2 separate regions of the Homo sapiens genome follow, and region 1 is linked to region 2. Evidence: fine-mapped expression QTL. Tissue or cell type: left ventricle. Region 2 holds a variant in brackets; the other region holds the start of a gene. All regions are shown on one strand. Distances are between the middles of the regions.

What was found. PIP is the estimated chance that this variant, and not a neighbour inherited with it, causes the effect.
Region 1: SLC30A2 starts here. The variant in region 2 is the best candidate, but not a certain one, in a credible set for the expression of SLC30A2 in left ventricle (GTEx, PIP 0.81).

What each region holds. Positions count from the first base shown.
Region 1 is chr1:26,043,808-26,047,807 of GRCh38, forward strand. SLC30A2 (solute carrier family 30 member 2) reads right to left here and starts at 2,311. Exons shown (of 8, transcript NM_001004434.3): 1 at 2,040-2,311; 2 at 1,190-1,410; 3 at 491-637. The coding sequence starts at 2,089. RefSeq lists an enhancer at 1,342-1,910.
Region 2 is chr1:26,068,362-26,076,097 of GRCh38, forward strand. No RefSeq gene overlaps it. Among named protein-coding and RNA genes, the nearest start is that of TRIM63, 4.6 kb to the left of the region's middle. The variant G/A (reference allele first, on the strand shown) is at 4,378.

The sequences.
Region 1 (4,000 bases), 26 kb before region 2:
CTTATTAAAGTATGTGCCTTTTGTTCAGCTAGTAAACTGAGGCTTCTGGGGAAGACAGGCTGGGCCATCTCCCACAAAGAGGAAGGTGACGATGCAGTCCAGGGTGAACGGAAGAGAGGTTAAAGCCTATATCTTCCAGCAGCCTTTGCTGGCCTTCCCCTCCCCCCAGAGCTGATCCACAGAGTTATGTGCAGTGTTAATGCCATTGTCATTTGTTCTTGAAGCTTGGCTACTGCACTTCTTAGGAAGGTCAACTTTGCTTCCCTGCAGACTGAGAGCTCCTGGATGACTGGGACCAGGGCTCCCCCATCAGACTAGGATTTCCCAGAGGACAGAGGCCATGGTTGACATCCTCTTCCCCCATCCAGATCACCCTCCTGGCCTCACTCAGGGGAGGAAGGGGGGATCCACCCATTACAGCCACCTAAGAACCCCTGTTCTAACCCACCCTCTCTCTCAACCCCATCTCCAGCCAAACCGCGATCCTCACCAGCTCTCTGCCAGCCAAAGTTCATGGTCTTGGTGGCTGGCCGGGAGGACATCCAGAGGGAGAAGAGGCTGATGAGCATGCTGGCAAAGTCAGTGAGCAGGTGTGCTGCGTCAGTCATGACAGCCAAGCTGTGTGCCAGGTACCCACCTGCAGGGTGGAGGGTCCTTATCAGCTCCCCCAGAGAGCTGGCTCCCAAGACTGTGTGTGCAGCAGGGAGACCACAGGCTCTGGAAGAGGACATTCTGGGCTCAAGATCTCTCTACCCATGAGCTGTACCACCGTGACAAGTGACCTACTCTCTCTGAGCCTCAACTTCCACTCTCTGTGAAATGGGCCACCAATATCTACTTAGAGGGTGAATGTGCACATCAAGTTCAAATAGGGACTGGAAAACATAGCAGATACTCAGTAAATGCTCTTCCCTTCTAGGAATTCAGGCCTTCCCTTAGCTACGAGTTGTGCGTGATCTTTGGCAAGTTACTTCACCTGAACATGCCTCAGTTTCATCATCTGTAAAGTAAGGAGAATAACGTCACCCATGTGAGAACACAGGTTGTTGTTAGACCTGCATCAGATAATGTGTATATAAAGGCTTACTGTAGTGTGTGTTCAGTAATTGGGGCTTTTAGTGTCAGTATTGCTGGGAACATCCAGTCTATCCATGCACCAACTTCATTTAATTAGCCCAAAAGTGCTTACCAACGACTTCTCCGATCATGAACAACAGGCAGATGGCAGAGGCTACATACAGCTGGCGCTGGGCCTTCCCCTTCTTGGGGTCACAGTGACTGTCAGGACCCTTCTGAGCATGGCAGTGATGGTTGCTCTGGGCAGCCAGCTCAATGGCCTGCAAGTCCAGGCCAGGTCGGGGCAGAGGAATCCAGCCAGCCCCTTCCTGCCACAGAGATCCCGTGTATGACCTGGCCAGAGGGGAAGAGAGGGAACGCTCAGCTCTGAGATGAGGTAAGGAGGGCCGACTCTAGTCCCATTTCTCTGTGAGGCCTTGTGTCCACTGGGAAAAATAGCTAAGGACGCTCCGAGCTCGACAAACCAGAGGTGAGAAGCCTGTATTCAGACGGGGATGATAGGGGAATGGGAGTCCTGGGGCCCGGGGCCCTTCAGAGGCCAGAGGAGGTGAAGACCCTGGGAACCGGCCAAGGGGCGTGCTGTCCAGTGGAGCGCGGGGAAGGAACAGAGCGCAGGCTCTGGGAGAACAGCAGGCCCCCTCCAGCGCACTTGGGACACAGGGCCTCCCCGGGGCGGGGCTGCCTGGGGCAAAGTGCTGGGCGGGGCGGGACTCCAGGCATGGGAACCGCCAATCCCCCGGCCCCAGGCCCCCCGCGGGCAGGGGTCAGAATCTGGGCTGCGCCCCAAGGGAGAGACGGTCCTTGGGCCACAGCCCATTATCTTCGTTCCCTCACCTCACCCCACCCCTCCTGCATGGTCCCAGCTCAAGCCGCAGCCAAAACCAACCACTGCTAGGATGGCAAATGCGGAGGTGCGTCGGCTGCCGCCAAAATTCCCGCCCGTCCCCAGGCTCTCGCCTTACCGGATTGCCGGCCTGGCGTCCAACAGATGCTGCTTCTCCTTGGCCTCCATGCAGTCCCGCGCCGAGTCCCGGCAGCCGCGCAGCCGCCCCGCCGAGTGCGCCCTGAAAGTTGCGCGCGGGACTCCGGGTGGCGCTCACCCACCTGCCCCGAGGGCCCCGCGAGGTGCGCTCACTCCGGCCCGGCTCCTGCGGCCCCTGAGCTCCCCCGGCTCCCGCTGCGGCTGCAGCTCCGGCTCTGGCTCCGCGTGCCAAGCGCTCCCGTGTCTCGGGTCAGCCGCTGCGCCCCGCGGCCGCCGGCTTTATCCGGCCCTCGCCAACCCGTGTGAAGCTGCCGTCGGCGCGTCGTGTGCAAAAGCCCGCGGGGAAGGGGGGGCGGTCGCCGGCTGCAAAAGGCCCGGCTGTGGCCCCGCACACCTGTGCCTGCGCCCATGGGGCCCGCGGAGCCCACCTGCCGGCCGCGAGAAGTTTGCCAGCCTTCGCCCGGCGCGGCGCCGGGTGTTGCTGAGTGAGGACGGGGTGACGCCTGCGCCCCCTCTCCCGCGCGGGGTGCGCCGCCTCGCCGCCGAAAAGTTCTCGACTTTAGTTTGTAGAAATCCGCTTTGGTGGTCCCGACGGCAGGAATGTGGCTCCTTGCCTCGGAAGAGGGTCTCCAGAGGCTACTGGGGCCGCGTCTGCCCCCTCCGACTGGCGGCTGCCCTGGGCTTGATCATGTTCCCCTCTCAGGCCGGAGACCCCCCGAGGTCGGCTTGCGTTCCTGTCCTCCTGCTAGGAGGGTCCTGGGGTGGGGTGGGCTGCGCCGCCCTCAGGCTGGGGCAGTGTCTCTCCCTAGGACCGGCTGGGACTGATCGACCCATCCTCGCCACTGAAGCAGCGCCAGCTCCTCCTCTCCTGCGCGCAGGAGAATCTGGAGTGGCCGGCTTTGTCTCCACCCGCACAGAGAACAGTGTCATCGGCAGTCACCATCGGAGCAGAGACGACCACTGCCACTGCTGCCACCCCTTCTCCCCTCCCCCGCAGCGGCTCCTGGGAGCCCCAGGAAGCCTGACAAGCAAGCCTGGGAGATGCAGGCCGGAGGTGCCACCGTGTTGGTACCGCTGGGAGAAGCCCTGTCCTTCCTGGCCAGCTTGGTGCCCCACCCACTTGAAGCAGCCTCCTTCCCTGGCGGTTCTTGGGGATTGGGGAGCCTGTGGCCCCCACGCTGGCCTCTGACAGGTGCCCTCTGTGTAGAAAGAAGCTGCTGGAGACCTCCCTGTCTGGTCAATTCGTCTCCCCAGCACCCTTTGTCGCTAGGACCATAGGCTTGGTGGGTATGGCCTTTCACAGAGCCAAGAGTCAGAGGTGCAGGCCTCTTGCCCACACCACTGGGGACAGGAAGGGGCTCTTTCAGTCTCTCATCTTGTAGGAGACGGGGTGCCAGGAGTGAGGATGTGAGGTGCACCCGCTCTGCTTGGGTCCTCACTGAGTGCCTCTCTGCTTCTCTGGACTCTGGTTTTCTTCTGGAAAACCTCAGACACCCTGGTTTTCTCCAGGTCTGTCTACTCTGAGCACCAGCAGGCTCAGCATTACCTGGAGAAGGTGTTACAACGCAGGTTACAGGTCCCTGCATCAGACCAACCGAACCAGAATCTCTGGGTGTGGAGCCTGAATATTTCCAGGATTCAGTAGGTCTGGGGCAGGGCCTGGGAATCTGTATTTATAAAATTCTCTGGTGCTATTGTGGCATCATTGTTCATTTTTATGTATAGTGGTTTTTTTGTTTGTTTGTTTTTGAGACAGAGTTTCATTTCTGTCTCTGTCGCCCAGGCTCGACTGCAATCTCAGCTCACTGCAATCTCTGCTTCCCGGATTCAAGTGATTCTCCTGCCTCAGCTTCCTGAGTAGCTGGGATTACAGGTGCCCACGACCATGCCAAGCTAATTTTTGTATTTTTAGTACAGACAGGGTTTCACCATGTTGGCCAG
Region 2 (7,736 bases):
GCATTTTGCTGGAGATGATGGAGACCCCCACTCCAACCAGCCCATCCTCCATCCCTCGGCCACTTATTTCACTTAGTGCTGAAAAGCCTCCTTTGAAACACAGTCCAGTCCCCTCATCTTACAGATTTTGAAATGGGACTAGAGAAGAAAAGGATTATATTCAAAGTCAGTTGGAAAGTAAGTGGCAGCCGGGCGTGGTGTCTCACACCTGTAATCCCAGCACTTTGGAAGGCTGAGGCAGGTGGATCACTTGAGGTCAGGAGTTCGAGACTAGCCTGGCCAACATGGTAAAACCCTGTCTCTACTAAAAACACAAAACTTAGCTGGGTGTGGTGGTACGCGCCTGTAATCCCAGCTACTCAGGAGGCTGAAGCAGGAGAATCACTTGAACCCAGGAGGTGGAGGTTGCAGTGAGCTGAGATCGCGCCACTGCACTCCAGCCTGGGTGACAAGAGTGAAACGCCATCTCCAAACAAAACAAAACAAAACAAAAAAGAAAGAAAATAAGTGGCAAAGACAGAAATTTTATTCATTCATCAGACATTTTTCTGAGTACTAGTATACATCAGGTAACTAGTATACATCACAACGTGACAGATGGATGAGTGATCTGTTTCCCTGCCCCAAGAAACTCACAGCCCAGGAAGGGAGATAGAAAGGAAAAACCCAGAGGGCACAGTGACTCACGCCTGTAAACCCAGCACTTTAGGAGGTCGAGGTGGGCAGACCACGAGGTCAGGAGATGGAGACCATCCTGGCCAACATGGTGAAACCCTGTCTCTACTAAAAATACAAAAATTAGCTGGGTATGATGGCAGGTGCCTATAATCCCAGCTACTCAGTAGGCTGAGGCAGGAGAATCGTTTGAACCCAGGAAGAGGAGGTTGCGGTGAGTCGAGATTGCACCACCGCACTCCAGCCCGGTGATAGAGTGAGACTCTGTCTCCAAAAAAAAAAAAAAAAGAAAAAGAAAAAAGAAAGAAAGAAAGGGAAACCCCTCATGCGGTGCCACAAAGCCCTGCCTGGACACTTAGAAGGCGTCCCTCAGCTCGCTGCACACATTTTAACTTTTCTCCATGTATTTTAGGACATCTTCCACGTTGGCAAGTAGAAGTCATTAGAGCAGTTCCAGTGGCTGGTTTTTTTTTTTTTTTTTCCCGAGATGTAGTTTCACTGTGTTGCCCAGAGGCTGGAGTGCAGTGGCGCCATCTCAGCTCACTGCAACCTCCGCCTCCCAGGTTGAAGTGAATCTCCTGCCTCAGCCTCCTGAGTAGCTGGGACTACAGGCATGTGTCATGACACCCGACTAATTTTTGTATTTTTAATAGAGACAGGTTTTCACCATGTTAGCCAGGCTGGTCTCGAACTCCTGACCTCAGGCAATCCACCTGCCTCGACCTCCCAAAGTGCTGGGATTACAGGCGTGAGCCACTGTACCTGGCCTCCAGTAGCTGTTTTTAAGGTAGCATCTAATGAAAGGACTGTGGGGTCATCTGGTCCAAGGCGATGGGGCAGAGATATGGAGCAGTGGTATCAGGGCCCAAGATGAGCCTAAGAGGCTGTGGAATACTCAGGAGGAGTATGAAGGATTTCAGGAAAGAGGAATGATGGGAGCAATGAGACAAGACATAGAGCAGAGAAGCAAACCTTGGAAGAGAGGAAATGGGAGAAGAAGAGGGACAAGTTACAGAAAAAAGAAGAGGCCTTAAAAACAAAGGGCTGGAGGATTTCGAGGAGAGAGTTGTCCCCCCAAAATTTTGCTGAGCACTTAGGTTTTGCTGAGCACTTACTATGTGCTATGCATTGTGCTAAATGCTTTGTATGCATTATTTCATTTTACCATCTCAATAGCCAATAACAAAAGACCCATAATATCCCCATTCCACAAGTGAGGAAACTCAGGCACACAGGTAAAATAACTTGTATGAGGTCCCACCGATAGCACGAGGTGGCTCTAGGACATGAACCCAAATATGCTTGACTTAGGAACCCAAGCTCCTCATGTAGACTCTATTGAACTGTGTTTAGGTCAAGTCAACACTGACTGAAAAAAGGCCACTTCTTCTTCCTTGCTCATGGGACCTCAGTTTAGTTCAGGCATTGGCAGCATTGTGCTCCAGGAAGATGGCCCTCTCCACTGCCTCAGGAGATGAGTCACACACAGTTTAAGCCTATCATACAACCCCATTCTCTTTTGCCTAATGATGCAGTTATGGTCAATGAGACCCAAGGATATGTCTGTTGGCTAAAGATAAAGGATTTCCTCCACAATAAAAATGAATGTGCAAGAAGAAAGCTTTGTCCATACCTTTGAATGGGGCTGTGAGAGGGTAGAGCAGCTATCTTGCAACCACAAGGGGACAAGGCTGAGGATGATGTCAACACCCTGAGGATAGCATAGAGGAACCATAGGAGGCACCTGGGTTAGAGATGCCATCATTTTGTTGCCAATTTATCCAACCCTAGAGCTGCCTGTCTCTTGACTACTTAAGACGTGAGATTACAAATGCCATTATAGTGTAATTACTCTGTTACTTGAAGCAGTAAGCACCTCATAAACCTGCATGATTCCGACTCCCATATGCTGATGATTCTCAACTCTCTAATTCCAGTTCCGACTTCTCCTCTCTCCCCTAAGCTAAAGATTTGTTGGAGATTTCTACTGGGATGTTCTAATAGTATCTCAAATTCATCATACTCCAGCCAGAATACACCATCTTCCCCGATACCTAGCTCCTCCCTCCATTTTTCTTGTCTCGCATCTTAGTGAACAGCACTACTGTCCACCCATTTGCACCAACCAGGAAGCTGAGAGTCATCTTAGGGCTCCCTCTTCTTCTCATCACATGCCTACTTAATCTCTGTGTCAGGCATGGCCCATCTTTGCATCTCACTTGCCGTATTACCATCGTCTGCTTGTGAGTCCGACTCTCTCTCTGGACTTTGAAGACATTGAGGGCAAAGATGGTCTCTATTCATCTCTGTACCCCCAATGCCTGGTACCTAGTAGGCACTCAACAAATGTTTCTTGGCTGGGCGCGGTAGCTCACACCTATAATCCCAGCACTTTGGGAGGTCAAGGTGGAAGGATCACTTGAGCCCAGGAGTTAGTGTGAGACCAGCCTGGGCAACATAGTGAGATACTATCTCTACAAAAAATTAAAAATTAGCTGGTCGTAGTGTTGCCCATCTGTAGTCCCAACTACTCAGTAGACTGAGGTGGGAGGATTGCTTGAGCCTGGGAGGTTGAGGCTGCAGCATGCTGTGATCACACCACTGCACTCCAGCCTGGGTGACAGAGTGAGACCCTGTCTCAAAAAAAACAAAGATTCTGAAATGAGTGGACAAGTGAATGAGTGGGTTAAATATAAAGGAGCAGCTGCATCACTGTCAGACTTGGAGAAGGTTCAGATACTTGAGCAAGTTTTTTTTTTTTTTTTGAGACAGAGTCTCGCTCTTCACCAGGCTGGAGTGCAGTGGTGTGAACTTGGCTCACTGCAACCTCTGCCTCCCGGGTTCGAGCCATTCTCCTGCCTCAGCTTCCCGAGTAGCTGGGATTACAGGCACCCACCACCATGCCCAGCTAATTTTTGTATTTTTAGTAGAGACGGGGTTTCATCATGTGGGCCAGGATGGTCTCGATCTCCTAACCTCGTGATCTGCCCGCCTCGGCCTCCCAAAGTGCTGGGATTACAGGCGTGAGCCACTGCGCCCAGCAGTTTTTTTTTTTTTGTTGTTGTTTTTTTTTTTGGCTGAGTTGGTGCAGCCAATGGAAAAAAAGTACTGGAGATGGGGTTTTGGGGATGATGGAGTAAATTCTAAAGCCTTGGGAAAGAGAGGGACGCTCCAACCTTTGAGTTGGAAGGATGGAAGGAGAGGAATGGATGGAGGTGTTGGGAGGTGGAGAGAAAGGTGTTCATATTTGATGACCTTGATCAAGAGAGCATTGAGGTCAACTTCTGAGGCTTAGGAATCAGTGGTGAAAAAGATTTGGACTGGCCAGTGTGGAACACAACAGGAAGTGCCCTGGAGAGAAATGGAAGGATTGTCTAGGGGCAGAAGAGCCTTGCTGATGTTTCCCAGTACTGATGTGTCATTTGTGAGGAGCCATTCACATGGCCCTGTTGACTTTCTCCAGCCGCACTTGGCAGTCCAGGTGCAGATGCCAAACAAATGGACAGTGGGATCGATTCCAGCCGGGGCGCTGGCAAGGCCAGTGCTGCTGAAAGTCAAGGGGTGAGGAAGGGAAATTCCCACGTGGGCTGTGCTGGACATCAAAACATGTCATTTAATCCTCACCATAGTCCTGCAGGGGAGGTTTTATGATCTTCGGGTTTTTTCCCAGGAGGAAATGAGGCTCAGAGAGTTAATTGGCTT[G/A]GCCAGAGTCACACAGCCACAAGTGGCAGAGCCGAGCTGGGGTTCATATCCACGGCAGCCTGATTCTTCAACCTGTGCTCCCCTCACTGGAGGATTTACTGAGCGCTTATTATGTTCAGGCATTGTGCTAAGTCCTTTCCATCCATCCTCCCGTTCAGTCCTCCAAATAACTTGGTACAGCAGGGATCATAATTTTCCCTGTTTTGCAGGTGAGCTTCAGAGGCTCAGTGAGGATAAGTCACACAGACAAAGTCCCCCAGCAGTGGGTAGCAGAGCCAGCATCAGAATCAGGAAGTTATAAACCAGCATCATTACAGTTATGAGAACATACCGTAACACTATAGTACTGGCAGATGAAGAGACAATTACGGAACACCAGTGGGTGTCTGGACCCAGAGCTCTTAACCACTATATTTACTGCCTCCCTCTCTGCAAGTCACTTCATTTATTTTTATTCCTTATGAATGAAAGTTTCAAACACACAAAACTAGAGAGAACAGTATAATGGGCTCACGTAATCAAACCCAGCTTAACTCGTTAATCATTGCCCCAATATTCCCATACACTTCTTTTATCTTTTCTTTCTTTTTTTTTTGAGACGGAGTTTCGCTCTTGTTGCGCAAGCTGGGGTGCATTGGTGCGATCTTGGCTCACTGCAACCTCTGCCTCCCGGGTTCAAGCAATTCTCCTGCCTCAGCCTCCCGAGTAGCTGGGATTACAGGCGCATGCCACAATACCCGGCTAATTTTTGTATTTTTAGTAGAGACGGGGTTTCACCATGTTGGCCAGGCTGGTCTCGAACTCCTGACCTCAAGTGATCAGCCCACCTCAGCCTCCCAAGCTACTGGGATTACAGACGTGAGCTACCGTGCCTGGCCCACGCTTCTTTTGTCTAAATTTTTTTTTTTGAAACAAAGTCTCACTCTATTGTCCAGCCTGGAGTGCAGTGGCGTGATCTTGGCTCACTGCAACCTCCACCTCCCAGGTTCAAGCGATTCTTCTGCCTCAGCCTCCCGAGTAACTGGGATTACAGGCACTCGCCATCACGCCCAGCTAATTTTGTTTTTACTTTTAGTAGAGACAAGGTTTCACTATGTTGGCCAGGCTGGTCTCAAACTCTTGACCTCAGGTGATCCTCCCACTTTGGTTTCCCAAAGTGCTGGGATTACAGGCGTGAACCACTGCACCCAGCCTCTTTTCTTTTCTTATTTTTTCTTTTCTTTTCTTTTCTCAGAAGGAGTCTCACTCTGTTGTCCAGGCTGGCTGAAGTGGTGCAATCTTGGCTCACTGCAACCTCCACCTCCTGGGTTCAAGCAATTCTCTGCCTCAGCCTCCGTGCCCAGCCTTTTCTAAAATATTTTAAAGAAAATGTTAGACATTAAGTCATTTCACCCATAAATACTCCAATATGCATTTCTCATAGATAAGGATTTTTGTTACATAATCACCATGCCATTATGTTAACAAACAATAATTAAAGTTTTTTTTTTTCTGAGACAGGGTCTCACTCCGTTACTCAGGCTGAGACCTCTGTTGTTTTTGTCTCATGGATCTCTTTTAAACTGTAACAACTGTCATCCCTCTCATTCTTCTGTGCCATTGATTTATCAGAGAATTATTCTGGGTATTATGATTCTCATTTTTATATATCAGGCACTGAAGCTTAAGTGACTTGTAGAAAGTCACCCAGCTAAGCAACAGACCTGTCATTTAGAATTGCTCCCAAAGTCTGTGTCATGAGTGTAGGAAGCTGTAGTGCCCAAGAGGGTCCCAGCTGGGTAGAAGACAGGCAAGGCATCAGGGAGAATGGTCTAGGCCTGGCAAGGAAAAAGGGGAGGTAGAGGGTAATAGCAATTATAATGCTGTGTTTTATTGATTTCAGTGCTTGCAAGTGGCTGGGCATCTACAAAGAGTTTTGAGGCACTATTTTATTCAGTCCTCACAACAACTATAAATAGGTTATCCTTAAATTTTTTTAATCGACAAGTAAAAATTGCATATATTTATGGTGTACCACATGATGTTTTGATATATGTATATATTGTGGAATGGCTAAATCAAGCTATTTAACATATGCATGACCTCACATACTTATTGTTTCATGGTGGGAACACTTAAAATCTACTCTCTTAGCAATTTTCAAGTATACATGTCATACTTATTGTCCTCATTTCACAGATGAGGCACAGTTTAGGGTATGGAGTTGCCCCAAGACCCACAGCTCATGTAGGCAAAGCTGCAACAGGCCTGTTTAACCCTCAAAGTCTATGCTTTTTCTTTTTCTTTTTTTAGACAGAGTCTTGCTGTCTGTCACTCAGGCTGGAGTGCAGTGGCGCTATCTCAGCTCACTGCACCCTCCACCTCCTGGGTTCAAGCGATTCTCATGCCTCAGCCTCCCGAGTAGATGAGATTACAGGTGCCCACCACCACGCCTGGCTAATTTGTTGTATTTTTAGTAGAGATGGGTTTTCACCATGTTGGCCAGTCTCTAAATCCTGACCTCAGGTGATCTGCCTGCCCCAGCCTCCCAAAGTGCTGGGATTACAGGCATGAGCCATCGTTACCAGCCTATGTTTTTGTTTTTTTTTTAATTGTCTCTAGAAAGGGAACTTTTCAGAGATCTGAGATTTTTTTGATGCCTCTTGGTTCAGAGGAGAAAACCCTGGCCTAGGGCCCAGACACCTGGGTTCCATCTCCATCTCTGTTGGAGACCTGAAATGTGATGCCCTGCAAACCATACCCACCCTCAGTTTCTTCATCTGCCAAATGGAGCATCTACAGGAGATGATCCTGAATGGTCCTTCCACATCCCCAGTGGCCAAGTTCTCAGAGGAGTGCTCCGGTGATGACACAGGCCCAAGGGGTGGTGATGCTGGAGAGGAAACAACTGTCCATCTCCCCTTTCATGTCCACATAGTTCAGGCTTGTGGAAGTGCTTCCCTGGTACATCATGGAGCAGATCTTTTTCACATGTGTGTACCTGTTCTCCCTCATTTCCTCCCTAGGAGTGTGAGGTCTGCCCTGCCTTGCTCTGCATTTCCCCTCAAGCCTCTGCTTGGAGCACCCTCAGGAAGTGGAACAGGCGTGGCACAGGGACTGTTTTTTTCTTATGGTTTAAGATCCGTATCACATGCTTTGATGTCATCCTCATTGAAGAATCATCCCAAATCACAGGATCAAACCAATGGGTCATTTGATCTAGTGGCTAAAGCTGGAGCAGTTGGCAGAGGCAGGTCTATGGGGTCTGGGACATGAAGCAGTGCCCTCAGTGCCAGGGCAAAGTCCACTGGGCCTGGCCTGCATGCCACAGAAGGGGAGCAGAATGTCCCAGGACCTACTCACTCATGGCCTGGGCTGGG